Linked DNA regions of Homo sapiens: region 1 is linked to region 2. Evidence: fine-mapped expression QTL. A gene starts in region 2. The other region holds a variant in brackets. All regions are shown on one strand. Distances are between the middles of the regions.

Region 1 (15,724 bases), 56 kb after region 2:
ATACACAAAATTAGCCGGGCATGGTGGCTCGTGCCTATAATCCCAGTTACTCAGGATGCTGAGGCAAGAGAATCACTTGAACTCAGGAGGCAGAAGTTGCAGTGAGCTGAGATCAAACCACTGCACTCCAGTCTGGGTGACAGAGTGAGACTCTGTATCAAAAAAAAAAAAAAAAAAAAAAAAGAAATGGTCCCGGGAGAAACCAGTAGGAAATAGGGGAAGCAGGATAGGGAAGAGGAACAGTACAAAGCAGCTAGATTTTGTTTTTTGGAGCGGAGTCTTGCTCTGTTGCCCAGGCTGGAGTGCAGTGGCATGACCCAGTTCACTGCAGCCTCAAAAATCCCAGGCTCAAGTGATCCTCCCACCTTAGACTCCCAAGTAGCTAATTTAAAAAATAATAAAATATATATATATATATATATCAGTAATTACTAAAAATTAGTAGTAATTATACTACTTTAATAGTGTGCTAACATCTTCCACTGTGTTGTGAATTTACCTATTTTTATTTTACTTTCCTTACCTTTTTTTTGCTTTATATATATTTAAGTTGTGTTATTAGGTGGGTATAAATGTAGGATTGTTCTTTCTGATGATTTGGACCTTTTGTCATTATGAAGTGACCCTTTTATCTCTCATAATGCTTTTGCCTTAAAGTCTATGTGGACTAAAATTAATACAGACATATCAACCTTCTTTGGTTAGTATTTGACAGATTCTTTTCATCCTCTTACTTTCAACCTTTCTGTATTCTTATGTTTTATTTAGATATGCCCTTTTTTTTTTTTTTTTTTTTTTTTTGATGGATGGAGTCTTGCTCTGTCACCTGGGCTGGAGTGCAGTGGTGCGATCTCAGCTCACTGCAACCTCCGCCTCCCAGGGTCAAGTGATTCTCCTGCCTCAGCCTCCGGAGTAACTGGAATTACAGGCACCTGCCATCATGCCTGGCTAGTTTTTACATTTTTGTAGAGATGGGGTTTCACCATGTTGGCCAGGCCAGTCTCGAACTCCTGACATCAGGTGATCTCCCTGCCTCAGCCTCCCAAACTGCTGGGATTACAGGCGTGAGCCACCATGCCCGGCCTAGATATGCCTCTTGTGAACAGCTTATAACTGGGTTCATTTGCTTTGTCTAGTCTAGCAATCTTTGTCTTTTAACTGAGGCATTGAGTCCATTTACATTTATTAATATACTGATATGTGCATGTGTGCGCACACACGTTATTTATTTACGTATATCCTATTGTTTGGTATTTTCCCCACCTTTTCTAAGGTTTCCTTTTCTATTCTTTTTGGCTTTCTTAATTATTCTTTATTTCATTTTTCTCCTTACATAGTTTGCAAATTATACCTTTTTTTTTTTTTTGAGAGTTTCGCTCTGAGTCACCCAGGCTAAAGTGCAGGGTCACGATCTTGGCTCACTGCAACTTCTGCCTCCCCAGTTCAAGAGATTCTTGTGCCTCGCCCTCCAGAGTAGCTGGGACTACAGGCGCACCACCACTCCCAGCTAATACTTGTATTTTTAGTAGAGACGGAGTTTCACCACGTTGGCCAGGCTGGTCTCAAACTCCTGACCTCAAGTGATCTGCCCATCTCGGCCTCCCAAAGTGCTGCAATTACGGGTGTGAGCCGCCATGCTTGGCCTGTGTTTTTAAGCCCATAAGACATTGTTATTAATGTTAATACAACATTTGTTTAGACTTACCCACACATGTACCATTTTCTTTGTTCCATATTCCTTCTTGTCTCTCATTTTTTCCATCTAGGATCACTTTTTATTTCTGCCTGCTGGTGGCAAATACAGTTTTTGTTTGTATCATGTCATTGTTTTTTCTTACTTTTAAGATATCTTTTCACTGATTTTATAATTCTTTTTAAAAATTTTTAGTGCCAATGAATTCTTGCTTATTGTTTGTACCTACAGTTGTGTCCTCCAGCTGCTGTGCCAGTTTAGACTACACCGTCACCTACCTCCTAAAGCACATAGCAAAAGAGGGCAAGGGGGATGGGCATGGTGGCTCAACACTGGTAATCCCAGCACTTTGGGAGTGGTATTTTTCTCTTAAGAATAGGGAAATTAAGATAGGCATTTTTCTTTTCAGTCTGTTGGGAGGTAGTGGTGTTTATATCTAGCTCACACATTCACTGAAGTCCCAATTTTAGGTTTTTTAGACTTCCCACCTTAAAGGAGCCCTGAGTTTCTCTCAGTAGTGTGTATTGGAGTTTGCTCCTATCAGCTCACAAGAACCAAATATTTTTCGTGTCAGTTCTTAGTACCACTGACGGCTTGAAATCTATGGTGGGAACATTTACCTAATGGAAATCAACAAAAACTGAAACACTAAAAAATGTGTGTACAACATTGTGCTTATAGTTAATACTGAACTGTACACAAAACAGTGCTTTGTTTTGTTGGAGAGCCAGTTACTAGCACACCACTGGTTCTCTCTAATCACTCACTCCCATGAGACCATGAAAATTCAAGTTCAAGTTTACTGAGTTAAAAATTACTCACCGGACCAGGCTCAGTGGCTCACACCTATAATCCCTACACTTAGGGAGGCAGAGGCAGAAGGTTAGCTTGAGCCCAAGAGTTCAAGAACTGCCTGGACAACATAGCAAGACCCCATTCTCCACAAAAAGAAAAAACAAATAAATAAATAAAAAATGGGCTGGGTGCAGTGGGTCACACCTGTAATTACAGCACTTTGGAAGGCTGAGGAGGGAGGATCGCGTGAGAACCACAAGTTCAAGACCACCCTAGCCAACATAGTGAGAGCCCCATCTCTACAAAAAACAAAACAAAACAAAACAAACAAAAAAAACAGTTGAGCATGGTGGTGCCACTGCACTCCAGCCTGGGCAACAGAGCAAAACCTTGTCTCAAAAAATAAAAAATTAAAAAGTTTAAAATTTTAAAAAATTAAAATGATGTCGTTTCAGTCACGCAAGATGAATAAGTTCTAGAGAGTTGCTGTACAGTATTGTGCTTATAGTTAATACTGAACTGTACACTTAAAAACCTGTTGACCAGGTGCGGTGGCTCACGCCTGTATTCCCAGCACTTTGGGAGGCCGAGGTGGGCGGATCACCAGGTCAGGAGATTGAGACCATCCTGGCTAACATGGTGAAACCCCGTCTCTACTAAAAATACAAAAAAATTAGCCGGGCGCCTGTAGTCCCAGCTGCTAGGGAGGCTGAGGCAGGAGAATGGTGTCAACCCAGGAGGCGGAGCTTGCAGTGAGCCAAGATCGCGCCACTGCTCTCCAGCCTGGGTGACAGATCGAGACTCCGTCTCAAAAAAAACAAAACCAAAACAAACAAACAAAAACAAAAAATAACTTGTTAAGAGAAGCCGGGCACGGTGGCTCATGCCTGTAATCCCAGTACTTTGGGAGGCCAGGGCAGGCAGATCACTTGAGGCCAGTTCGAGACCAACCTGGCCAACATGGAAAAAACCCATCTCTACTAAAAATACAAAAATTAGTGGGACAGGCTGGCATGCGCCTGTAGTCCCAGCTACTCAGGTGGCTGAGGCACGAGAATCCCTTGAGCCTTGGAGGTGGAGGTTGCAGTGAGCCGGGACTATGCCACTGCACTCCAGCCTGGGTGACAGAGCAAGACTATATCACAAAAATTAAAAAAAAAAAAAAAAATTTAAATTGCAAATAGGTTAGACAATAAAAAATAAAAATAAAATAAAAATGTCCAAAAGGCAAAAGTCAGTTTCGTTGCGCAACTTGCCTTTGAATTCGTGACTTTTTTGGCCTGAGTATTCCTTACTTTCTTGCCAACTCATCAGTGCAGTAAAAAAATTTTTTTTCTTTTATCCATAATTGTTTTCAGAAGTTTATTCAGGGTACTTAGTCCACTTTAGTACCATAAAATATCTTAGTATCTTAACGTAGATATTGAGATAGTTGGACTAGATCAGTAGTTCTTAACATTTTTTGGACACAGACTCGAGAATCTGATAACAGAGCTTGGATAACTTCTCCTCGGGAAAATGCACATACACACAGATAAAATGTATGTTTTTACTCCCCTGAAACTATCCATGGGCCCAAGAATAAGAATGTTGCCCAGGTTGGTCTTGAACTCCTGGCCTTAAGAGATCCTCCCATGTCTGCCTCCAAAGCACTGAGATTACCTGTAGGTGTGAGCCACTGCATCAGGCTCAGAGCTAACTTTTGACAGCCTCTCCATGTTTCCTGTCCTGAGCTGAGAGTTTCCGGGATTCTCTCCTTGGGTGAGCTTGAGTTTCTGAACTGGGGCTTCCAGAATCTCCAAGACCTCTTGGGGGAGAAGCTGAGAGTTGTCAGTTAAACCTTTCACAAAGCTGAAACACACGCAATGTTCATTCAACCAGACCTATCCACATTTATTCATTCGGTGTTTATTGGCTCCTGTTCCAGCTGTCTACTGCTGCATAACATATCATATGTAAACTTAGTGGCTTATATAGTAATAACAATCAATTACATAGTTCTCTCATGATTCTGGGAGTAACTGGGCTCAGCTAGGTAGCTCTTGCTCTGGGTCTCTCATGTGGTTGCAGTCATCCACAAGTGCTGGAATCATCTCAGCCTCTTCAGTACATGTTTGGCAGTTGATGCTGGTTGCAGGTTTGGTTTTCAGTGGGGCTTCTGGCTGTAAAACCTACATGTGGCCTCACTCTCTCTATGTGGCCTGGGTGTCCTCACAGCATGGCAGGTGGGTCCTGAAAGGGAGCATCCAAAAAGAGATTTAAAAAAATTTAAAAAGGGGCCGGGCACAGTGGCTCACGCCTGTAATCCCAGCACTTTGGGAGGCTGAGGCGGGTGGATCATGAGGTCAGGAGATCAAGACCATCCTGGCTAATATGGTGAAACCCCGTCTCTACTAAAAATACAAAAAAAAGGGGTGGGGGAGAGGGATAGCATTAAGAGATATACTTCATGTAAATGACCAGTTAATGGGTGCAGCACACCAACATGGCACATGTATACATATGTAACAAAACTGCACGTTGTGCAAACGTACCCTAGAACTTAAAGTATATTTAAAAAAAAAAATTAGCCGGGCGTAGTGGTGGGCGCCTGTAGTCCCAGCTACTTGGGAGGCTGAGGCAGGAGAATGGCATGAACCTGGGAGGCGGAGCTTGCAGTGAGCCGAGATCGCGCCACTGCACTTCAGCCTGGGCGACAGAAAGAGACTCCGTCCCCCCCAAAAAAAATTAATAAAAAATAAAATAAAATAAAAATTAAAAGAGAATGAGTCAGGAGGAAGCCACATTACCTTTTAGAACCTAGCCACGGATGTCACACAGCATTTCTGTCACATTCTGTTAATTAGATACAAGTCATTAGACCAGCCCATATTTAAAGGAAGGTCAATTAGATTCTACCTCTTGATGGAAAGGATGTCAAAAAATTTGCCGGCCAGGCATGGTGGCTCATATCTGTAATCCCAGCACTTTGGGAGGATGAGGTGGGCAGTTTGTTTGAGCCCAGGGTTCAACACCAGCCCAGGCAATATGGTAAAACCCTATCTCTACAAAAAAAAAAAAAAAAAAAATTAGCCGGGCATGGTGGTACATGCCTGTAGTCCCAGCTACTCAGGAGGCTGAGGTGGGAGGATCGCCTGAGCCTGGAGTCGAGGGGGCAGTGAGCTGTTTAATCGCTCAACTTACCTTTGATTCATAATGGCGTCACTATACTCCAGCCTGGGCGACAGAGTGAGACCCTGTCTTAAAAAAAAAAAAAAATTGCAGATATGGTTTTTTTTTTTTTTTTTTTGAGACTGAGTCTCTCTCTGTTGCCCAGGCTGGAGTGCAGTGGCACGATCTCACTGCAACCTCCGCCTCTCAGGTTCAAGCGATTCTTCTGCCTCAGCCTCCCAAGTAGCTGGGATTACAGGCATGTGCCACCATGCCCAGCTATTTTTTTGTATTTTTAGTAGAGACAGGGTTTCATCATGTTGGCCAAGCTGGTCTCAAACTCCTGACCTCAGGTGATTCACCCACCTCGGCCACCCAAAGTGCTGGGATTACAGGCGTGAGCCACTGTGCCCAGCCCTGCAGACATGTTTTAAACCCACCACATCTCCTTTCTGTTTGTCAAGCACTGGACAAGGCACTTAGAATAGAACGGTGAATACTACAAACCCTGTGGTGCTTACAGTCTAGTGGTAGAGCCAAACATTAATAAAATAACATTACAAATATGTACACAATTATGAACTTTGATGGTCCTATGGAAGATGATTCCAGGGAGCCATGAGAATTTATATGACACATTTTTATGACCTGGACCAGGGAACCAAGAGAGAATTCTCTGCAGAAGAGACATTTGGATTGAGATCTGGAACACCATTGGATGCTAACTCAATGAAGTGGGTTGAACAAGAGCCTTCCAGGCTGAGGGGATACCAGGCCAAGGCCCTAGAGTAGGAGAAACAGCAGCCTGAGAGGCAGCTAGTATGTCTTGAGACAGCTAGCAGGGACAGGAAGTATGAAACAAGACCGCAGTGGTGGGCTAGGGCCAGGCCCCTGGGCACTGTAGGCTGGGTAATGGTATTGGACTTCCGCATAAAAGTTGTGGGAAGCTGGCTGGGCACGGTGGCTTATGCCTGTAATCCCAGCACTCTGAGAGGCCGAGGTGGGCGGATCACGAGGTCAAGAGATCGAGACCATCCTGGCCAACATGGTGAAACCCCATCTCTACTAAAAATACAAAAAATTAGCTGGATGTGGTGGCGGGCACCTGTAGTCCCAGCTACTCGGGAGGCTGAGGCAGGAGAATCACTTGAACCCTGGAGGCAGAGGTTGCAGTGAGCCGAGATTGCACCACTGCACTCTAGCCTGGGCGACAGAGCAAGACTCTGTCTCAAAAAAAAAAAAAAAGAAAAAAAAAAGAAAAAAGGTGTGGAAAGCTGTTGAAGGGTCACATACTGGAGAGTGATATGAACACATTTACAACTTAAAGATCACTTTGGCTGCTGTGTAGATGGCCCCAGCCAGACGCTGAGTCAGGCCTGGGAGGGCTGGGAACCTCCTATCTGCAGTTCCTCCCCTCCCCATGAGACTCTCCCACACAGGCTGAAGCCAGCTGCAGCCTTGGCCCTATACCTCCTTGCCTGAGATTTCAGGCTGAGCACCCTACACTTAACCTACTCAGTCCCTCCTCCCAGACACAGGAAGTCCTGCCATTTTGCATCACTCGGTGAGTCACCCCTTATTTGTCAGTCAGTGGGTGTAATGGATTAAGAGGTGGTCCCAAAAGATGTGTCTACATCCTAATTCCCAGAACCTGTGAATGTAACCAAATTTGGAAAAAAGGGTCTTCATGGATGTAATTAATTAAGGATTTTGAGAAGAGGAGGACATCCTGGATTATCTGGGTGGACCCTAAATTCTATGTGTCCTTAGGGTCTTATAAGGAGTGAGGCACAGGGAGATTTGATTAGAACAGAAGAGGAGGAAGTAGTGTGACCACAGAGAGGGAGATTGGAGTGATGTGGCTATAAGTCAAGGAAGGCCAACAGCTGCCAGAGCTGGAAGAGTCAAAGAACAACATCTCCCCTAGAGCCTCCAGAGGGAGTACAGCCCTGCCAACACCTTGATTTTGGCCCAGTGGTCTGATCTTGAACTTCTGGCCTCCAGAACTGTAAGAGAATAAATCTCTGGTTGTTCTAAGCTGCCCAGTCTGTGGTAATTTGTTACAGCAGCCACAGGAAATTAATGCA[G/A]TTGGGTACTTCTCAAGCTGCTCCTTCCTGATGAGCTGTACAGGCTCCCTCTCCTTCAGGAGACCTCTAAATGTTGGGGTGCCCCGGGCTCAGTTCTCATACTACTTTTTTCTCTATTCTCTGTCCCTACATGATCTCATCCATTCACTTGGCTTTAAAATACCATTCATTTATTGGCTGGACGCAGTGGCTCACGCCTGTAATCCCAGCACTTTGGGAGGCCGAGGCAGGTGGATCACCTGAGGTCCGGAGTTTGAGACCAGCCTGGCCAACATGGTGAAACCCTGCCTCTACTAAAAATACAAAAAATTTATCAGGGCATGGTGGGGCCTGTAATCCCAGCTACTTGGGAGACTGAGGCAGGAGAATTGCTTGAACCCGGGAGGCAGAGTTTGCAGTGAGCTGAGATCATGCCACTGCGCTCTAGCCTGGGCAACAAGAGCAAAAACTCTGCCTCAAAAGAAAAAAAAACATTTATTTGCTAATATCCTCAAATTTTATCTCCATCCAGACCCTTCTCCTGGAGCCCAGGCATCCCCAGAGGTAGATGAAAAGAGAACTCTTGTTCCACGCTCACCACCACATCTGTCCCTGGCCCAGGCTGCCCCAGTCACTCCATGCTCCAGTTGGAAATGTGATAGCTATCCTGGATTTCTCCATTTCCCTCATGCAGTTTATCCAAACTGCTAGCAAGTCTTGTCTTGTTGTTTAGGTCTTATAATCTCTCTCAAATCTGTCCATTCCACTCCGCACTGCCATCACTGCAGCCGCAGCATCTCTCACTCAGGTGACTGTGCCAGCTGCCTGATGACTCCCATGTCGACTCTCATCCCCCTCCATCCCTTCTTACAGCAGCCAGGGTGATTTTTTAAGAAACAAATTAGATCAGGTTGCAGTTTTTTGAATACCTTTATTGAGGTATAGTTGACATGCAATTAATTGCACACTTCAAGCTTACAATTTGCTAAGTTTTGACATATACCCATGAAAGCATCAGTATAATAAAGATAACAACCATATCTATGTGCAGTGGCTCACACCTGTAATCCAAGCAACTCAGGAGGCAGAGGCAGGAGCACTGCTTAAGGCCATGAGTTTGAGACCAGCCTAGGCAACATAGTGAGACCCTATTTCTACAAAAAATAAAAACCAATTAGCCAGGTATGATGGCATGTGCCTGTAGTCCCAGCTACTTGGGAGGCTGAGGCAGGAGGATTCTCTGAGCCTGGGAGTTTGAGGCTGCAGTGAACTGTGATTGCACTACTGCACAGCAGCCTGGGTGACAGAGTGGGATCCCGACTCAAAGAAAAAAAGGAAGGCTGGGTGCGGTGGCTCATGCCTGTAATCCTAGCACTTTGGAAGGCTGAGGTGGGCGGATCACGAGGTCAAGAGATCGAGACCATCCTGGCCAACATGGTGAAACTGCGGTCTCTACTAAAAATACAAAAATTAGCCGGGTGTGGTGGTGTGCGCCTGTAGTCCCAGCTACTCAAGAGGCTGAGGCAGGAGATTCACTTGGACCTGGGAGGCAGAAGTTGCAGTGAGCTGAGATCCCACCACTGCACGCTAGCCTGGCAACAGAGCAAGACTTTGCCTAAAAAAAAAAAAAAAAAAAAAAAAAAAAAGAGAGAAAAGAAAAAAAAAAGAAAAGAAAGAAAAAATGAAAAAGAACTATACCTATGACCTCCAAAAGTTTTCTCGTGCTCCTTTGAAATCCAACTTCCCTTCCCCACCTCCCATTCCTAGGCAATGACTGATATGCTTTCTGCCATTACCAACTAGTTTACATCTTCTGAATTTTATGTGATAGAAAATAGTATGTAATTTTTTCTTTTTTTTTTTTTTTGAGGCAGAGTCTTGCTCTGTCGCCCAGGCTGGAGTGTAGTGGCGCGATCTCCCCTCACTGCAAGCTCCGCCTCCCAGGTTCACGCCATTCTCCTGCCTCAGCCTCCCGAGTAGCTGGGACTACAGGCACCTTCCACCACGCCTGGCTAATTTTTTGTATTTTTAGTAGAGACAGGGTTTCACTGCGTTAACTAGGATGGTCTCGATCTCCTGACTTCATGATCCGCTCACCTCGGCCTCCCAAAGTTTTCGGATTACAGGCGTGAGCCACCGCGTCTGACCTTTTTTTTTTTTTTTTTTTAAATACAGGGTCTCACTCCGTCACCCAGGCTGGCGTGCAATGGCGCGATCACGGCTCACTGCAACTGCAGCCTTGACCTCCTGGGCTCAAGCAATCCTCCCACATCTGCCTCCCAAGTAGCTGGGACTACAGGCATGAACCACGACATGCTCGGCTAATGTTTTTTTTCTTTTCTTTTTTTTGTTTTGAGACAGAGTCTCGCTCTGTCGCCCAGGCTGGAGAGCAGTGGCTCGGCTCACTGCAAGCTCCACCTCCCGGGTTCACGCCATTCTGCTGCCTCAGCCTCTCAAGTAGCTTGGCGCCCGCCACCACGCCTGGCTAGTGTGTGTGTGTGTGGTGGGGGGGGCTAGTGTGTGTGTGTGTGTGTGTGTGTGTGTGTGTGTGTGTGTTGGGATTACAGGCGTGAGCCACAACGCCCGGCCAATTTTTTTGTAGAATGGGGTTTCACCATGTTGCCCAGGCTGGTCTCAAACTCCTGAACTCAATCAATCGCCCACCTCAGCCTCTGAAAGTGCTGAAAGTACAGGCGCAAGCTGCTGTGCCTGGCCTATATACTCTTTTTTATATGGCTTAATAATTTTGAAATTCATCCATGTTCATTGTATCAGTATTTTTTTTATTGCTGAGTAATAAGTATTCCATTGTATGAATATACCACAATTTTTTACCCATTCACTTGATGATGAACATTTGGGCTGTCCAGTTTTTAGCTATTATATGCAAGGCTGCTGTAACCATTCATGTATAGGTCTTTGTATGAGCTTCTGCTGTCGTTTTTCTTGGGTAAATACCTAGGAGAGAAGTGACTGGATCATGTGGTAGGTGTATGTTTAACTTTTTGAGAAATTGCAAAACTGTTTCTATTTTTATTGTTTTGAGACAGAGTCTCACTCTGTTGCCTAGGCTGGAGTGCAGTGGTGCAATCTCGGCTCACTGCAACTTCCGCCTCCTGTGTTCAAGCAATTCTCGTGCCTCAGCCTCCCAAGTAGCTGGGACTGCAGGTGCACACCACCAAACCTGGATAATTTTTTGTATTTTTTTAGTAGAGGTGGGGTTTTGCCATGTTGGCCAGGCTGGTCTTGAACTCCTGACCTCAAGTGATCTGCCCCCCTCAGCCTCCCAAAGTATTGGGATTACAGGTATGAGCCATCATGCCTGTCCAAACTTTTTTTTTTTTTTTTGAGATGGAGTCTCACTCTGTTGCCTAGGCTGAAGTGCAGTGGTGGCATGATCTCAGCTCACTGCAACCTCTGCCTTCCAGGTTCAAGTGATTCTTCTGCCTCAGCCTCCCAAGTAGCTGGGGTTACAGGCGTGTGCCACCACACCCAGCTAATTTTTGTGTTTTTAGTAGAGACGGGGTTTCACCATGTTGGCCAGGCTGGTCTCGAACTCCTGACCTCAGGTGATCCGCCCACCTTGGCCTCCCAAAGTGCTGGGATTACAAGCATGAACCACCATGCCCGGCCAGTTTTCTAAAGTGCTTATACATTCCTACCGCTAGTGTGGAACTGGTTATAGTTGTTTCACATCCTTGCCAACACTTCATATGGTCAGTCTTTTAATTTTCGCTTTTTTAGTGGGTGTGCAGTGGTATTTCACTATGTTTTAGTTTACATTTCTTATAACCAAAGAGGATCCTTTCATGTGCTTATTTGCAATTTGTGTATCTTCTTCAGCAAAGTGTCCGTTGAAAATTTTTGTTCATTTTTTTACATTAGTTTTTTATATTGAGTGTATATATTTTTATGTATTCTAGATACAAATCATTTATTCTTCATATATTCTAAGTATATAAGGAAGTTTTTAAAAAATATATTCTAGATACAAGTCCTTTGTTGGATATATGTTTTGCAAATATTTTCTCCCACCGACAGTTGTCTTTTCGTTTTTCTAGTGGTATCATTAGAGAGCAAAAGTTTTAAATTTTAATGAAGTTTATAAACCTTTTCACTGATTATTAGTGTTTTGCCCAACCTAAGGTTATAAAGATTTTCCCCTACGTCTTCTTCTAGAAGTTGTATAGTTTTTGCTCTTGTAATTAGATTTGTGGCCCACTTGGATTAATTTTTGTGTATGGTGTGAAGTAAGGATAGAGGTTCATTTTGTTTGCCATGAGATATCCAGTTGTTCTAGCACCATTTGTTGAAAATACTATCTTTTCCCCAAAGGTACTTTGTCACCTTCATAAAAAATCAATTGATAATATGTGTATATCTCTATTTCTGGATGGCCTTTTCTTTTTCAGTGATCTATATGTTTATCTTTACATCAATACCACACTGTCTTGATTATTGTAGCTCTGTCTGTAGTCTTGAAATCAGGTAGGGCCAGTAATCTAATTGCATAATACTTTAAAAAATTGTTATGGCTATTCAAGGTCCTTTGCATTTCCACATACATTTAGAATCAGCTTGTTTACTACAAAAAAAAAAAGATTGCTGCAATTTTGACAGGAATTATTTTGAATCTATATGCCAATTTCAGAAAATTGTAATCTTGAAAACATCAGGTCTTCTGATCCATGAACACAGTATCTCTCACCACTTATTTATATCTTCTTTAATTGCTTGCACATCTTTTGTCAGATTTATCCCTGTTTTGGAGTTCTGATGGTATTATAGATTGTTTTTATAATGTCAATTTCCAAGTGTTTTTTGCTTATATAGAGAAACACAATTAGTTTTCATATATTAATCTTGTATCCTGCAACTTTGCTAACCTCAGTTATTCATTTTATTTATTTATTTATTTATTTTTTGAGATGGAGTCCTGCTCGGCTGGCCAGGCTGGAGTGCAGTGGCATGATCTTGGCTCACTGCAACCTCTGCCTCCCAGGTTCAAGCGATTCTCCTGCCTCAGCCTCCTGAGTAGCTGGGATTACAGGTGCCTGCCACCACTCCTGGCTAATTTTTGTATTTTTAGTAGAGACAGGGTTTCACCATGCTGGCCAGGCTGGTCTCGAACTCCTGACCTCAGGTGATCCGCCCACCTCAGCCTCCCAAAGTGCTGGAATTACAGGCGTGAGCCACTGCGCCTGGTCCCTCATTTACTCATTTTAGGTTTCCTAGATTACTTAAGATTTTCCATATATATGTCATTTATAAATAAAGACAGTTTTACTTTTTTCTTTCCAAACTATATGGTTTATATTTTTCTTCCTATATTGCATTGACTAGGACCCCCAGTATAATCTTGAATAGAAGTGGTAAGAACAGATATTTCTTGCCTCATTCTCAATCTTAGAGTGAAAGCATTCAATCTTTAACCATGAAGTATGATTTTGTTGTTGTTTTTAGAGAGTAGGTCTGGCTCTGTTGCCCAGGCTGGAGTGCAGTGGCGCAATCTCAGCTCTGCAACCTCCGCCTCCCCAGGCTCAAGTGGTCCTCCTGCCTCAGCCTCCCAAGTAGCTGGGACTACAGGTATGCACCACCATACCTGGCTAATTTTTGTCTTTTTTGTAGGGACAAGGTTTCACCATGTTGCCCAGGCTGGCCTTGAAATCCTGAGCTCAAGTGATCCACCCTCCTTGACCTCCCAAAGTGCTGGGATTACAGGCGTGAGTGGCCATGCCTTCTTGGAATATCTCTGTCTGGTTTTGGTATCAGGGTAAGGCTGGCCTCATAGAATAAGTTGGGAAGTATTCCCTCCTTTTCAATATTCTGGAAGATTTTATATCAAGTTGGTATTATTTCTTCCTTAAATGTTTAGTAGAGTTCACTAGTGAAGGCATCTGGGCCTGGAGGGTTTCATTTTATTTTTTTTTGTGGGAAGGTTTTTAACTATTATATAAATTCCATTACATATTTATTCTTGAATATGTGTCACACTTTTGTGTAAACCCTCAGGGCCTTCCCCTCACTCCTCCCTAAGTCCTTATTGTGACTCCCAAGGCCCTGTCTCCTGTCTGGTAGGCTCCTGCCCTCCTCTGCAGCCCTTCCACATGCTGCCTTCCCCTTAGGCAAGAACCCCCAAGAAGCTTCTTGCCCACCTCTCTGCTTAAGGGTCTTACTGCCTTCCCCTCACCATGTTCCAGTAATATGGGTCTTCTGGCTATCCCAAGAGTATGCCAAGCTCTTCCCCACCTCAAGCCCTTGGCATTGCCTTTCTCCATCTGGTAAGATCTTCCACAGGCTCTTTGCATGGTCGTTTCTCATTCTCAATCTCCAGGTCTCAGATAATGTGTCAGGAAGGTCTTCCCTGACTTTTGTTATATCCAGGGGATGGCCTGCTGGATACTATCTCCCACATAATCTCATTTACTTCCTTCATATAATATATAATATACAGATCACACTCCATCATTGTTTACTTACTATATTAGTCTGTTCTCATGCTGCTAATAAAGACATACCCAAGACTGGGTAATTTATAAAGGAAAGAGGTTTAATGGACTCACAGTTCCGCATGGCTTGGAGGCCTCACAATCATGGCGGAAGATGAAGGAAGAGCAAAGTCACATCTTACATGGCAGCAGGCAAGAGAGTGTGTGCAAGAGAACTCCCCTTTATAAAACCATCAGATCTCGTGAGACTTATTCACTGTCATGAGAGCAGCACGGGAAAGACCCGCCCCCATGACTCAATGATCTCCCACCGGGTCCCTCCCACAACACATGGGAATTATGGGAATTACAATTCAAGATGAGATTTAGGTGGGGACACAGCCAAGCCATATGGCTTACTTTCAGTGCCTTAAGAGCAAGGATCTTGTCTGTCTTGTTTATGGCTGTATCCCCTGCAGCCAGCACAAGATCTGGCACAAACTAAGTGTTCAATGACTATTTGTTGAATATGTAGACTAACAGGATGGCCTATTGGTTAATCAGGCTGTACATCACAGAAGTAGTGAGTCTCCTGTGAGCCTGTTGGTTGGTCTGAGGATTTGGTCAGCCTGGAGTAGGTCAGGCAGCTGTTGAGTGGGCCACTTACTCTGTGGGGTTGGTCTGTATGACTGACAAGCCAACTGCAAAGCCAGGCCAGGATGCTGGGGGGATACAAGAAGGAAAAGGCCCAGGCCTACCCCTAAGAAGATTCTTGCCCATCTCTATTTAGAGTCTTACTGCTCCCCATTCCCTGGCCAGGAGGTGACACAGGGATGGCCTGGGGGAGTGGGGAGGCTATAGAGCCTGTCCCAAACTGGCAGCTGCTCCTCAGTAATTCTGCTGCAGGGCTTTCAAATCCCATGAACCTCACCTCGTGGCTGCAAGGCTCAGGAAGAGCCTGTGGGGGAGGCACAGAGAGGGCTTTGTGGCTTCCTCGCCACCCCACCTCCTAACCTCCCCTGACCTGGGCTCTCTGCTCATGGAAAGTCCCCCTCTGGACCTGGCTGCCTAGCCCCAGGAGACAGGCGGTAGGACACGTTGCCACTATCTGCTCTCTGCAGGGGCAGAACATGAGCCTGTACCTCTAGGGGCCACTCCTTACAACTGAAGTTGTGCCCTTCATAGACCAGGGGAAGCCCAGCTCTCTGGCTGAGGGAAGAGGCTTTGGATAGAAGCTGGATATGGGACAGTTAATCCCAGATCTCGCCAGGAACACCGCTGCTGTGGGGTCATGGATGTGGCTAGAGTCCCATGGAGTATGTGTAGGAGGGTGTCAGAGCTGCTTGTATGGAAGCAGCTGTTTGCAATAACTAGGCCACAGCACCCAGGCCGCCAGCAATCACCGAGCTTCCATCCTGCTCACTGACAAACTCCATGACCAGGAGGCCCCACTCATGGTGACATCATCCCCTTGCACGCTGCTGAGGGAAATGAGCTCAGGACAGCCATCAGAGGCGGCCTGTTTACTTACAGGGACCCTGGCCGTCAGCAGCTATTTGACCAGACATTCCCTGTCCTGGCCAGCATGAAGC
Region 2 (13,364 bases):
AAAACAAACAAAAAAACAGGCTGAGTTATCCCTTAACCAAAATGCACGGGACCAGAAGTGTTTCAGAGTTCAAATGTTTTCACGTTTTGGAATATTCACAGAAATACACTGGTTAAGCACCCCTACATGAAATCTGAAATCTGAAATGCTCCAATGGAGCATTTCCTTTAAGCGTCATGACGCACTCAAAAGGATTTCAGAGCATTTTGAATTCCAGATTTTCAGACTACGGATGCTCAACCTGTTAGTAACCTGAGATCAAATAAAACTCTCTTTAGGACTATGAAGACCCAACTTTTAATGATCAGACACAGAAGGATTCAAAAGGATGCATTCTGAAAAGACTTTTATTATGGGTACACAAAACTAAGGGAGGAGGGGCTCACTGCACTGCTAGGGCCTACAAATAGTTAGAGGACAGGGACAGTGTCATGATCATCTGCATATTTTCTGAGCCTAGTGATGTCTGAATCAACACATTTGCTATTAATTTTGCACATAAGTGTGTGCTCTTTTTTTCATTCTTTCCTTCTACATTTTCTACTCCCATATCACCACCCACAATTAGAATTCTCAAAGCAAACAGGCCTCAGCCTTGAATTGATTACACTAAAGTAGTGTTTCCACACTTGGTCTAACTAATAATATACATATACTACTAACATACAAATTCTAGGACTCCATCCCACATCTACAGAATCTTAATCTCTAGGGAAGGAGTTTGGGAATCTCTAAGTTTAACAGTCACCTTCAGTGACTAATACAACCTGGCAAGTTTTGGAAAGAATGCATAGAAGGAAAATAAATTTAATCCCAAGAGGAGCTAGTTTACTCCTAAAGTATCTCCAGATGGTAGAAATGTATGATATAGGAATTTCTGAATAGCAAATCTTCACTGCTATGTGACCTTGAATGAGTTACTTAAACTTGCTAAATCTCAGTTTATTTATAAAAAGGAGAATACTCTTTGTTCTGGCAAAATTAAGGGTGCAAGAATAAAACTATATATGTTGGCATTTATTAAATATTAGTTTCTTTCCTTTTCTACTCTAAGAAATTATTCTTTTTTCTTTTTTTTCTTTCTTTTTTTTTTTTTGGAGACGGAGTTTCACTCTTGTTTCCCAGGCTAGAGTGCAGTGGTGTGATCTCGGCTCACTGCAGCCTCCGCTTCCTAGGTTCAAGCAATTCTCCTGCCTCGGCTTCCTGAGTAGTTGGGATTACAGGTGCCCGCCACCACGCCCAGCTAATTTTGTATTTTTAGTAGAGACGGGGTTTCACCACGTTGGCCAGGCTGGTCTTGAACGCCTCACCTCTGGTGATCTGCCTACCTCAGCCTCCCATAGTGCTGGGATTACAGGTGTAAGCCACCGCGCCTGGCAACAAATTATTCTTTAGGTCTATAAAGGTTGAAATGTTTCTTTGAAGAAAAAAAAAGGAGGAAAATTTCTTGATTAAAATATAAGACACTGACCTTATAAATTGAACAATTTTCAGCCTCTGTATAATTTTATTATATCACATCAAATTTGTTTAGAAGGTTTTATCATCCAGTTCTACCTTTTTTTTTTGAGATGGAGTTTCACTCTGTCGCCCAGGCTGGAGAAGTGCAGTGGTGTGATTTTGGCTCACCATGACCTCCACCTCCCAGGTTCAAGAGATTCTCCTGTCTCAGCCTCCCGAACAGCTGGGACTTCAGATGCACGCCACCACGCCCGGCTAATTTTTGTATTTTTAGTAGAGATGGGGTTTCACCATATTGAGCAGGCTGGTCTCAAGCTCCTGACCTCAAGTGATCAGCCCGCCTCGGCCTCCCAAAGTCCTGTGATTACTGGTGTGAGCCACAGCGCCTGGCCCACTTTCATTTTATGTTGTGATCCAAATTAAATTTTGTTCAGAACCCCTAATATTCCAGCTATGGGATGGAGCTACTTTAAGTCTTTCCAGTACATAAAAACACACTACATCTAGTACCTTTTCATATGGTGGCCAATTATGGTTAATGGTAAGTGTGAAATTGTAACCAAAGTCTCAATATTAGGGTTAGGAGATAGAGAATACTCTCTAGCCAACCATCAGACACTGAAGTCTTACAATCTTGAAGCTTTCTTCAATTGGATTGTATAGGAAGGCTGACATGGTGGTACAATTCATTACCATTAACTCTAAATTATGTTAAGTAATGAGTTTTTTGATTATTTGATTCATTAATGAAAATATCTGTAGTAGAATCTTTGCATTTCAGAGAGTTACTGACACTAACAGCAAAAGTAGGATACATGATTTTTTTCCTTCTTTTTTTCTTTTTTTGAGACAGGTTCTTGCTTTGTCGCCGAGGCTGGAATTCAATGGCTGGCTCGCTGCTGCCTCACCTCCCAGGCTCAAGCGATCCTCCTACCTCAGCCCCTAAGTAGCTGGAACTATAGCCATGCACCACCATGCCTAGCTAATTTTATTTTTTTATACATATGGGGTTTTGCCATGTTGCTCAGGCTGGTTTTGAACTTCTGGGCTCAAGCACTCTGCCTACCTCAGCCTCTGAAAGTGCTGGGATTACAGGTGTGAGTCACTGTGCCCAGCCCTGATTTCTTCCTTCTCTGAGTGTCTGAATCATTAATAATTATCAGATGCTTCCCGGAATTGAGGGCTTACCTCCTTTGGTAAGTACTAAGGGAAATTACCTTAATATATGAATGACTGGCCTTCCCAGCCATGTGAGATATTCAATATGTATTTGAAGAAAGTAGTAATAAATACAGAATAAATAAGTCTTGGTTCTCCTATAGCCTAATGATCACATCCAGAAATTCACAAAATCTAATTTGAAATAAACACAAGTAAGCAAAATAAAGAAGCAAATGTTTTTCTTAAATTATCTCTTACACAACAGTGCAAAGTATTACCAGTCCTGAAGATTTTCTAGTATATAGTGAACATAAGAGAGAATCAGGTAAGCTCATACAATTTACATATAATTTATATAACATACAAAGTCACATACATTTATCTATTTCATATAATCCATATTTCTACACATTTAATACAATTTATATATATATATTTCTTTTTTTTGAGACAGGGTCTCTGTCACCCAGGATGGGGTACAGTGGCATGACCATGGCTCACTGCAGCCTCAACCTTCTTAAAAGAAGTAGCTAAGACCACAGGTATGCACCACCATACCTGGCTTTTTTTTTTTTTTTGGAAAGACAGGTGTCTCAACATGTTGCCCAGGCAGGTCTTGAACTCCTAGGCTCAAGGGATTCTCCCATCTCCTCCTTCCAAAGTGCTAGGATTATAGGCATAAGCCGTTTGCACCTGGCCTATATTTATACATTTTACATAATTTACATATTTTTATACACTTAGTAATTTACAGAAAATGTAGGGAAAAAAGAACAGTAGAAGATGTAATACTTACATACAAAGGTCTCTACATGTGTGCACAAGTCGCCACATTTAGGACAGCGCAGCTGGTTTCCACCTTTCCCAGAATTCCCAGAGCCTGATTTCTTACTACTTCCCTCACTTGCTGATTTCTAACGTTTATGAAGGAGAAAAAAGGAAGAGTGTCAATTATTAGTTTCAGGCAACCAACTTAAATGTAAACAATACTGTTTGTAATTAATTTTATAATCTTCTATATTTCTAGGATGAAATTATTAGTATATTTTATAATTCTATTACTGGTGTCAGAAGATCTATTTACTTCAAAAATCAAATCAGTTCTAGTAAATACATATATATCTGCAGTCCTCCTTTGTATAACATGTGCCAACATATATAATAAACAGCTTTCATTCAATGACTCAGGCACTAGAAAATTTACTAAGGGTAAAAAACTACATTTCAATGAAATTGAATCAGGAGTTATTATCATGGTAGGTAGTGACTCTGACTATTCTTAGATCTAACTTTTCTCATCTCTAAAATGGGAATAATTTTACTCACATCAGAGTCACTGTTAAGTATGGATATGTAAGTGTCTCACATTTTGTCTAACATATAAAATTAACTCAAGTGTTAGTCAAATTCACGTAATGAAAAAAACTGTTAAGTCACTGACTCAATACAACTACCAACATAAGTTATACTAGCTACAACATAAAGTTATACCAGAAATATGAAATTTTTAGGCTACCAGAGTAGCCCAACATTAAGTTATACCACAAATCTGAAATTTTTAGGTAGAGGATAAAGTGAGGTTTATACTGCCATGGGTTATAAGAGTTATATGAAAGCAGGAAATGATGGCTATTCCTAATTCAATCCTACTGACTGTCATTTAATGACACTTCTTTACTACTTTGGGGTGTAAGAAATTTTAATTACTGCTTACTATGTGCAATGCTTATAAAAGTATTTTAAGGTTCAAAATGAAACATCTAATTACATAAAATTATTCAGATCATTTTAGCTATCTCATATTTCCTACAGAAAACATATAAGCCAGTAAGAGACAGTACTGTTATATTTTTTTAAAGGAGGGAACTCACAATGTGTACAGATGCCAATAAGATAAAATAATTACCTTATTTCCATCTCCAGAACCATCTTTACTTATCCCATCTTTTGAGGCAAAGTATGCTGGTGTTTCTGTAAAGGATCTAAGAGGAGCTCTTTGCAGAATCTGAGTTTCAAATGTCCCAAGCCTTCCTAAAACTGACATATGAATGCGACCACCAGAAATACCTGAAAATAAAAGGAAATCTACATCAAATATAGACATGCCTCAATAAATCCCCTGGAAACAAAAATTCCTTGAGCATAAAGGAGGTTGAAAAAAAGCTATCATTTTCACAGTAGTATAAACTGAGAGAAAAAAAATGACACCAACGGAGGCAAAGTCCTTTCAAAAACAGGCCAGCAGGTCTGGGCCTCTGAAAGATTCTAAATAAATAAAGGTGTTTCTTTCTGTATGTGTCCTTTGGAAATAAGGCAAGATCACCCACGTCATAACTTTTTCAAAGTTTGAATGGACTTCAACATCTGCCTCACCTGTAAGATTTTGAAAAAGGCCATTTATGCCCTATATTCTTATTATTTCTACCAATGAGAATAAACATCTGACAGCAACTCATCTGTTATTATATAAGAATACTATCTGGGCCGGGTGTGGTGGCTCACCCCTGTAATCCTAGCATTTTGGGAGGCCTAGGCGGGTGGATCACTAGAGGTCAGGAGTTCAAAACCAGCCTGGCCAACATGGTGAAACCCCGTCTCTACTAAAAATAAAAAAAAATTGGCCACGCATGGTGGTGGGCGCCTTTAATCCCAGCTACTCGGGAGGCTGAGGCAGGAAAATCGCTTGAACCCGGGAGGCGAAGTTTGCAGCGAACTGAAGTCGTGCCACCGCACTCCAGCCTGGGTGACATAGCGAGACTCCATCTCAAAAAAAAAAAAAAAAATCTGTAACAATGGAAACAAACTTCAAATGTTCTTTAAGGTCAGGCGCGGTGGCTCATGCCTGTAATCCCAGGGTTCGAGACCAGCCTGGCCAACGTGGTGAAACCCTGTCTCTACTAAAAATACAAAAATTAGCTGGGTGTGCTAGCAGGCGTCTGTAATCCCAGCTACTCAGGAGGCTGAGGCAGGCGAATTGCTTGAACCCAGGAGGCAGAGGTTGCAGTGAGCCAAGATCATGCCACTGCACTCCAGCCTGGGCAACAGAGGGAGACTCTGTCTCAAAAAAAAAAAAAGTTCTTTAAAAAATTGTGTTATTCCACTTACACGTGGTACTTAGAAGGCAAAATCATAGAGTCAGTGAGTAGAATGGCGGTTCCTGGGGGTTGGGGAAAATGGAGAGTTATTGTTGTAATGGGTACAGAGCTTCAGTTTCACAAGATGATGGCAATGGTTGCACAGTATCAATGTACTTAATACTACCGAACTATACACTAAAAATAGTTAAGTCTTGTAAATTTTATATGTATCTTACCACAATAAAAAAATTGAAGGAGCCAGGTGTGATGGCTCACGCCTGTAATCCCAGCACTTTGGGAGGTTGAGGTGGGTGGATCACTTGAGGTTAGGAGTTTAAGACCAGCCTGGCCAACATGGTGAAACCCTGTCTCTACTAAAGATACAAAAAGTAGCCAGGCGTGGTGACAGGTGCCTGTAATCCCAGCTACTTGGGAAGCTGAGGCAGGGGAATCACTTGAACGAGGCAGAGGTTGCAGTGAGCCGAGATTGCGCCACTGTACTCCAGCCTGTGCAACGGAGCGAGGCTCTGTCGCAAAATAAATAAATAAATAAATAAATAAATAAATAAATAAATAAATAAAGATAGTATCAATCCCAAAAGTAGGCTTAGAAAAAGTAATTGAGGGGGCCAGGTGCAGTGACTCATGCCAGTAATCCCAGCACTTTGGGAGGCCCAGGGGGGCAGATCATAAGGTCAGGAGATCGAGACCATCCTGGCTAATACGGTGCAACCCCATCTCTACTAAAAATACAAAAAATTAGCTGGGCATGGTGACACGCGCCTGTAGTCTCAGCTACCCGGGATGCTGAGGCAGAAGAATCGCTTGAACCCAGGAAGCAGAGGTTGCAGTGAACCGAGATGGCACCACTGCACTCCAGCTTAAGCAACAGAGTCTCCGTCTCAAAAAAAAAAAAAAAGAAAGAAAGAAAGAAAAAGAAAAAGTAATTGAGGGAGAGTGACAGATGCAATCAATCAAAATGACCATTCACCAATCATAAAATCCTCATAAAAATGATAAAGCTCTGTAGCAAAGTAATTGGGATTTCTAACACTTTTTGTGCCATGAACCCCTTAAGCAGTCTGGTGAAGCCTCTGAATAGATCTTCTCAGAATAATATTTTTAAATGTATAAAATAAAATACATAACAAAGGAAACAAATTATAATGAAGTAGTTATCAAAAAATTTTTAAAATATGCCTCTTTATTAACAAGCAAAATTAAATAAGATCTAACAGCTTTTTAAATAATTACTATGATTTCAAAGTAGCAAAAAGTATGGACAATATTCTGAAATATCAGCAACTATAATGTGATATGAAAATATTTCTGATTTTGATTGATGACAAATCCACAGACACTTCTAAGACTACTGTGGATGTGTTGCCCACATTCATAGGCCAAGGAAACGTTGTGTTTCAGTTAGAGCTTAGTGAAAATAAAGTTCACAGAATCTCTGAATTCTATTCAAGGACCCTTTGGAGGCCTGTAAACCCCAGGTGAAGCTCTGAAAGCCAAAAAAGAGAAGTGTTTCTGTAAAGTATATTTCACCAGATTACCTGGCAGCAACCAGAAAAGACAATTTAAGTTTCACTATTTACAGAACTTTATCATACAGACAAAGCTTTCTAAATTTCAGAACAACTGTTTTTAAAAAGAAATACTAGTCCGGGTGCGGTGGCTCAAGCCTGTAATCCTAGCACTTTGGGAGGCCAAGGCGGGTGATCTCCTGGGGTCCAGGAGTTGGAGTCCAGCCTGACGAACATGGCAAAATCCCGTCTCTACTAAAAATATAAAAATTAGTGGGGCGTGGTGGCGCGCGCCTGTAACCCCAGCTTACTCAGGAGGCTGAGGCAGAAGAATTGCTTGAACCCAGGAGACGGAGGTTGCAGTGAGCCGAGATCGCGCTACTGCACTCCAGCCCGGGCAACTTAGCAGATTCCATCAAGACAGACACACAAAAAGAGGCCAGGCGCGGTGGCTCACGCCTGTAATCCCAGCACTTTGGGAGGCCGAGGCGGACGGATCACAAGATCAGGAGATCGAGACCATCCTGGCTAACACGGTGAAACCCCGTCTCTACTAAAAATACAAAAATTAGCCAGGCGTGGTGGCGGGCGCCTGCAGTCCCAGCTACTCGGGAGGCTGAGGCAGGAGAATGGCGTGAACCCAGGAGGCGGAGTTTGCAGTAAACTGAGATCTGGCCACTGCACTCCAGCCTGAGCGACAGAGCGAGACTCTGTCTCAAAAAAAAAAAAAAAAAAAAAAGAAAGAAAATAAGACAGACAGAAAGACAGATAGTAGATGGAAAGAAAGACAGAAAGGAAAGAAAGACAGGAAGGAAGGAAAGGAAGGAAGGAAGGAAGGAGAAAAGAAAAGAAAAAGAAAGAAAACAGTCGTTTTGAAAAGAAAAAAAAATAACTGCCTATCTCCTATGATTCAAAAATGTTCACGGACTCTTGGCTACAAGAGATCAGTAACACTTTCAAAGAAGCCGTCCCTGACCAAAGGGAACACACACATACTTCATCCACCCACTGGAAACTGTATTATTCTTTGTCTACTCCACTAGATTTAAACATGAGGGTGAGGACTTATTCACCACTCTACCTCCAGCACTAAAAGAAGGCCTGACACACAGTGGACCCTTGACAAATATTAATATATATCAGATAAATGGATTAAAATATGTCACTTTAAAGTGTTTGCAAATCGAATTCCTGGAATCGGGACATCTACTGGTTGAGGCTTAACATCGATTTAGGATTAAATTTACTCCCTTACATTTATATATCATTTTACAAAATGCTTCTGCCCACGTTACCTCATTCAATCCTTCCTTCTGTAGTAAAGAAACTGGAAGATATATTTAGTAAACAATAAGGATTTTATAATTGGCTTAGAAGTTAGATAAAAGGGGCCTTTTTAAAAATCCATCCAAGGGTCATAAACCGATAAGCCAAAATAAAACGAATTTGTCTAGAAGTCAGTCATTATAACAGGATCTAGCCTCGTGGTCTGACTTCCACAGATTTGAGGAAGAGAAAAAAAGTTTATTTTCCAGACTCTCTTGGCTGGGGCGCCATTCTTTCACAGCTTCAGATAAACAGAAAGAAAAGGTAAACAACATGCGCCACTCTTAGGAAACTACCTCCCGGTCAAGTTGGGAAAGCCAGCAAAGGACTGCTGAAACACCCAAGTACTTCCGAACCAACTCCTGCGGGACTTCTCCCCATCTCTCCCGCCGCTGTCCTGCGGGCCCCGGGGCTTGCCTGACGCCGGGAAGTATTGTGAACCTTGTTTATGTCCCAGTGTCAGGGCCGCACAGTGATAGTAACATCTCGGGTATCGCGCGGCTTGCGTCCGGGACGGCCAGCTGGGTGCCCCGAGTCCTGGGGGACCCTAGTAGGGACAGATCCTCAGCCGAGCCCCTCCTGGAGCCCCCAACGGGCCCGAGGGGGATCCCGGCCAGGCTGCGGAAGAAGAGCCGCAGCCATGGCAGGCGGCGGTCCCCGGCAGGGCTGAGTGGGATCTGGAGACATTTTTTAATAACAGGAGCATTTTGTGCCTTTCAGGGTTTCTACAAAGTGGCCGCATTCCGGCCCCAAAGTCAGCAGGCCTGAAAGCGTGCAGGCAGGCGCGTGGGAAGGAGTTTACTTCCAATTTGAGCAACGGCTGCTCCAGAGGTTGGCAGAGCCCCATTCCACGGGGAAAGTGGTGGGTGCCGGGCGAAGCGCCGCGCATTCCCTCACACTCCCCGGGTGCAGCAGGCCTCGTGCCCTCCCCGGGGCCCCCAACCATTGGCCAGTCCACCCCCCCCCCGACAGGCTGAGGGCTCAGGAGTGGCACTATTTCGTTACCTCTCTGCGCGGAGGCGAGTGAGGAGGTGATGAGCCGGACGGCCGCCGCGCCGCAAGTACAAGCACCGCAGCTGGGCATCTCCGCGAGGCCTAGGCCGGGGCTTCGCCCCCTGAGGACCTCCGGGTCACAGCGGCGTGAATCCTGCCCGCAAGGCGCGCTGACTCGGTTCCGAACCCTTTCGCGGGCCCTAGACCCCGTGGAGAGTTCACCTGCCCGGCAGCCAGGCCTTCACGCTTCTCTGCCCCACAGCCGTCTATTCACCAGAGTAGACACCCAACCCCCCCCTCCCTTCCCCTCCTTCTCCTTCTACCCCCACCCCCAGCCTACTGGGCCCGGGGAGCTTGCGCGCGCCTGCGCCCTAGGCCCGGGGAGGGGGCGGAGGGCGTGGGCACGCGCCGTGTTTGCGAGCTGGTGAAGCTACGTGAGGCGAAGGCGAGGGGGTGGTGCCCTGGGCGCCAATGAGTTCCCTACGGCAAGCGTCTAGCCCCAACTGGGGCGACTACAGGTCCCGACGCTCAAGGTTGCCAAAAGCCCTTTTATCCTAAAGTTGAAAGGTTTTGCGATAGACGCGGAGAGATGCATGCCGGGACTTGTAGTCCCGAGTCGTCATAGTCGAGCTCTTCCGGTCACTTTTAGTGGGCGGCAGGGAAGGTCAAGGTGAGGCTGGTGGCTTAACCCTCCAGGGGGAAGTCTCTAAAGTGCCTTGGTAGGCGCTGGATGCTTCAGATTCACTAAATTTCTTCCCCCGGAATTCCACATCCTGTGTTCCTTATCTTCTCATTCTCCTTAGTTTCATCACTTGTAACATGGAGTTGGTATTGTCAGTTAGTTCCCTGAGCAGCAATTGTTAGTTGGTAACAGCTCCGTCTCCTTGTTCTTTCAGGCCTCGTGGTGATAAAGCTTCTAGCTGTTGCTAGTCCGTGGGTGCTTTAAAGTCTTGAGGGTTTTCTTTTCTTTCTTTCTTTTTTTTAATTTAGTAAAGATGAGGTCTCCCTATGTTGCCCAGGCTGGTCTCAAACTCCTGGGCTCAAGTGATCCTCTCGCCTCGCCCTCCCAAAGTGCTGGGATTACAGGCGTGAGCCACCGCACCCGGCCGTGATTAAGGATGGCACTGCATAGATAACCTCTGGTCAGGTTCCTATCAGGCCATCCTCTCAAGTTATGAATTCAAAAGCACAGAGCCGGCTGGGCGTGGTGGCTCACACCTGTAATCCCAGCACTTTGGGAGGCCGAGGCAGGTGGATCACGAGGTCAGGAGTTTGCGACCAGCCTGACCCACATGGTGAAACCCCATCTCTACTAAAAATACAAAAATTAGGTAGGTGTGGTGGCGTACTCCTGTAATCCCAGCTACTCAGGAGGCTGAGGTGGGAGAATTGCTTGAACCCAGGAGGCGAAGGTTGCAGTGAGCCGATATCGTGCCATTGCACTCCAGCCTGGGCGACAGAGCGAGACTCCGTCTCAAAAAAAAAAAAAAAAAACCCAGAGCCATCTGAGATTATCCCTGTGAGAAAATGGATCCTTCACCAGGAAAGTGATGGCAAATACTTGTGGTCACATCAGCCCTTCCACATCACACCTACTTTCAGCTGTTTTCTGACAGATTAATGACGCTTTAAAAAGAAAGTCAAGTGCAGTTTTCCAGCTCAAATAGTTTACACTGGAGGAGTTAACTCCTTGAGTTATTTACTTTTTGCGAACTACATAGCTGAAGGCACATAACTTTTTTTTTGAGACAGAGTCTCCATCTGTCACCCAGGCTGAAGTGCAGTGGCACCATCTCAGCTCACTGCAACCTCTGCCTCCTGGGTTCAAGTGATTCTCCTGCCTCAGCCTCCTGAGTAGCTGGGATTACAGGCATGCGTCACCATGCCCGGTTAATTTTTGTATTTTTAGTAGAGGCAGAGTTTCACTATGTTGGCCGTGTTAGTTTCAAACCCCTGACCTCAAGTGATCCGCCTGCCTCAGCCTCCCAAAGTGCTGGGATTACAGGCATGAGCCATTGCACCCAGTCAGGCACATAACTTTTTATGTCTTCATTTTATGTAAAACTTTTTCTTTTGTCTTTTTTTTTTTTTTTTTTTTGAGATGGAGTCTCACTCTGTGGCCAGGCTGGAGCGCAGTGGTGCGATCCTGGCTCACTGTAACCTCTGGCTCCTCGGTTCAAGCGATTCTCCTACCTCAGCCTCCTGAGTAGCTGGGACTACAGGCGCACACCACCACGCCCAGCTAGTTTTTGTATTTTTAGTAGAGACGGGGTTTCACCATGTTGGCCAGGATGGTTTTGATCTATTGACCTCATGATCCGCCTGCCTTGGCCTCCCAAAGTGTTGGGATTACAGGTGTGAGCCACCATGCAGGCCCTCTTTTTCTTTTATACTTGATTTTACCTCCCAGCATTATGAGTTGCTATAAGAAATATTTTAATAAATTAGAGTCCATGAGTCTTAACTCACTCAATATTAACCCTGATTTTTTTAGATGAGGAAACAGGCCTATTGAAAAGGCAGATACTTGACCAGGGTCACATAACAAGTGAAAAACAGAGAATAGAGCTGGAGTCTTCTGGCTTTAAAACTGTATTTCTCAAGCTTTTCTTTTTTAACCCAAGACTCTTTTCGATAAACATAAAAATCTCACTTCTCGGCCAGGCGCAGTTTCTCACGCCTGTAATCCCAGCACTTTGGGAGGCCAAGGCAGGTGGATCACCTGAGGTCAGGAGTTCCAGACTGGCCTGGCCAACATGGTGAAACCCCGTCTCTACTAAAAATACAAAAATTAGCCGGGTGTGGTGGCGCACGCCTGTGATCCCAGCTACTCGGGAGGCTAAGGCAGGAGAATCGCTTGAACCTGGGAGGCAGAGGTTGCAGTGAGCTGAGATCGTGACAATGCACTCCAGCCTGGGTGACAAAGCAAGTCTCCATCTCAACAACAACAACAAAAAATCTCGCTTCTCCTCTCCTCCACCAGAAATTCTGGCACATCTTCTCAGAGAGTCATCATTCTTTTGGGAATCTTTGTATCCTCTGAATAAAGACTTTTTTTTTCATGGCCAAACCCTGCTCCTTCATATCAGCAGACATTGATTATCCCTGGAAGGATATAAATATAAATATTGAGGAACTCAGTATTTTAAAAGATAAGGACCTGCATCTGTAGGTGGTGCGAACTCAAGATAATATTAACACATCGTATTGAACTTTATAACTTACAAAGGGTTTTCACATCCACTTTCTCATTTGATTATTACAACAACCAAATGATATATTGTTATTATCAGCATTCCAGTTTTGAAGCTGAGAAAATCAAGACACAGAGAGTTTAAGTGACTTGCCCAAGGTCACAGCAGAACCCAGACTTAAATCCAAATCACCATATGGGTTTCCATTACTTCTCTATATCTTATTCCAAAAGCTGATGAGATTTTAGGGGTCTGCAGAATCTCTACCCCCTACCCAGGAACATCTCACATCAAGGAATAAAAATCTGCCCTCCTATTAAGGAAGTGACCCACCATCTTTCCTTTACTTAAGAATTACTTTGGTTGTAGCCGGGCGCGGTGGCTCAGGCCTGTAGTCCCAGCACTTTGGAGGCTGAGGCTGGCGGATCACGAGGTCAGGAGTTCAAGACCAGCCTGGCCAACCTGGTGAACCCCGTCTCTAAAAATACAAAAATTAGCTGGGCACAGTGATGTGTGCCTGTAGTCCCAGCTACTCAGGAAGCTGAGGCAGGAAAATCGCTTGAACCTGGGAAGCGGAGGTTGCAGTGAGCCGAGATCATGCCACTGCACTCCAGCCTGGGCAG

The links. PIP is the estimated chance that this variant, and not a neighbour inherited with it, causes the effect.
Region 1: its variant is fine-mapped to the expression of CLPX in whole blood (INTERVAL, PIP 0.99).

What each region holds. Positions count from the first base shown.
Region 1 is chr15:65,230,104-65,245,827 of GRCh38, forward strand. It overlaps a transcript of PARP16 not described here. Among named protein-coding and RNA genes, the nearest start is that of CILP, 26 kb to the left of the region's middle. RefSeq lists enhancers at 9,665-10,165, 10,166-10,666. The variant G/A (reference allele first, on the strand shown) is at 7,726.
Region 2 is chr15:65,175,516-65,188,879 of GRCh38, forward strand. CLPX (caseinolytic mitochondrial matrix peptidase chaperone subunit X) reads right to left here and starts at 9,827. Exons shown (of 14, transcript NM_006660.5): 1 at 9,560-9,827; 2 at 4,529-4,689; 3 at 3,419-3,536. The coding sequence starts at 9,638. RefSeq lists an enhancer at 9,460-10,344 and a silencer at 9,766-10,075.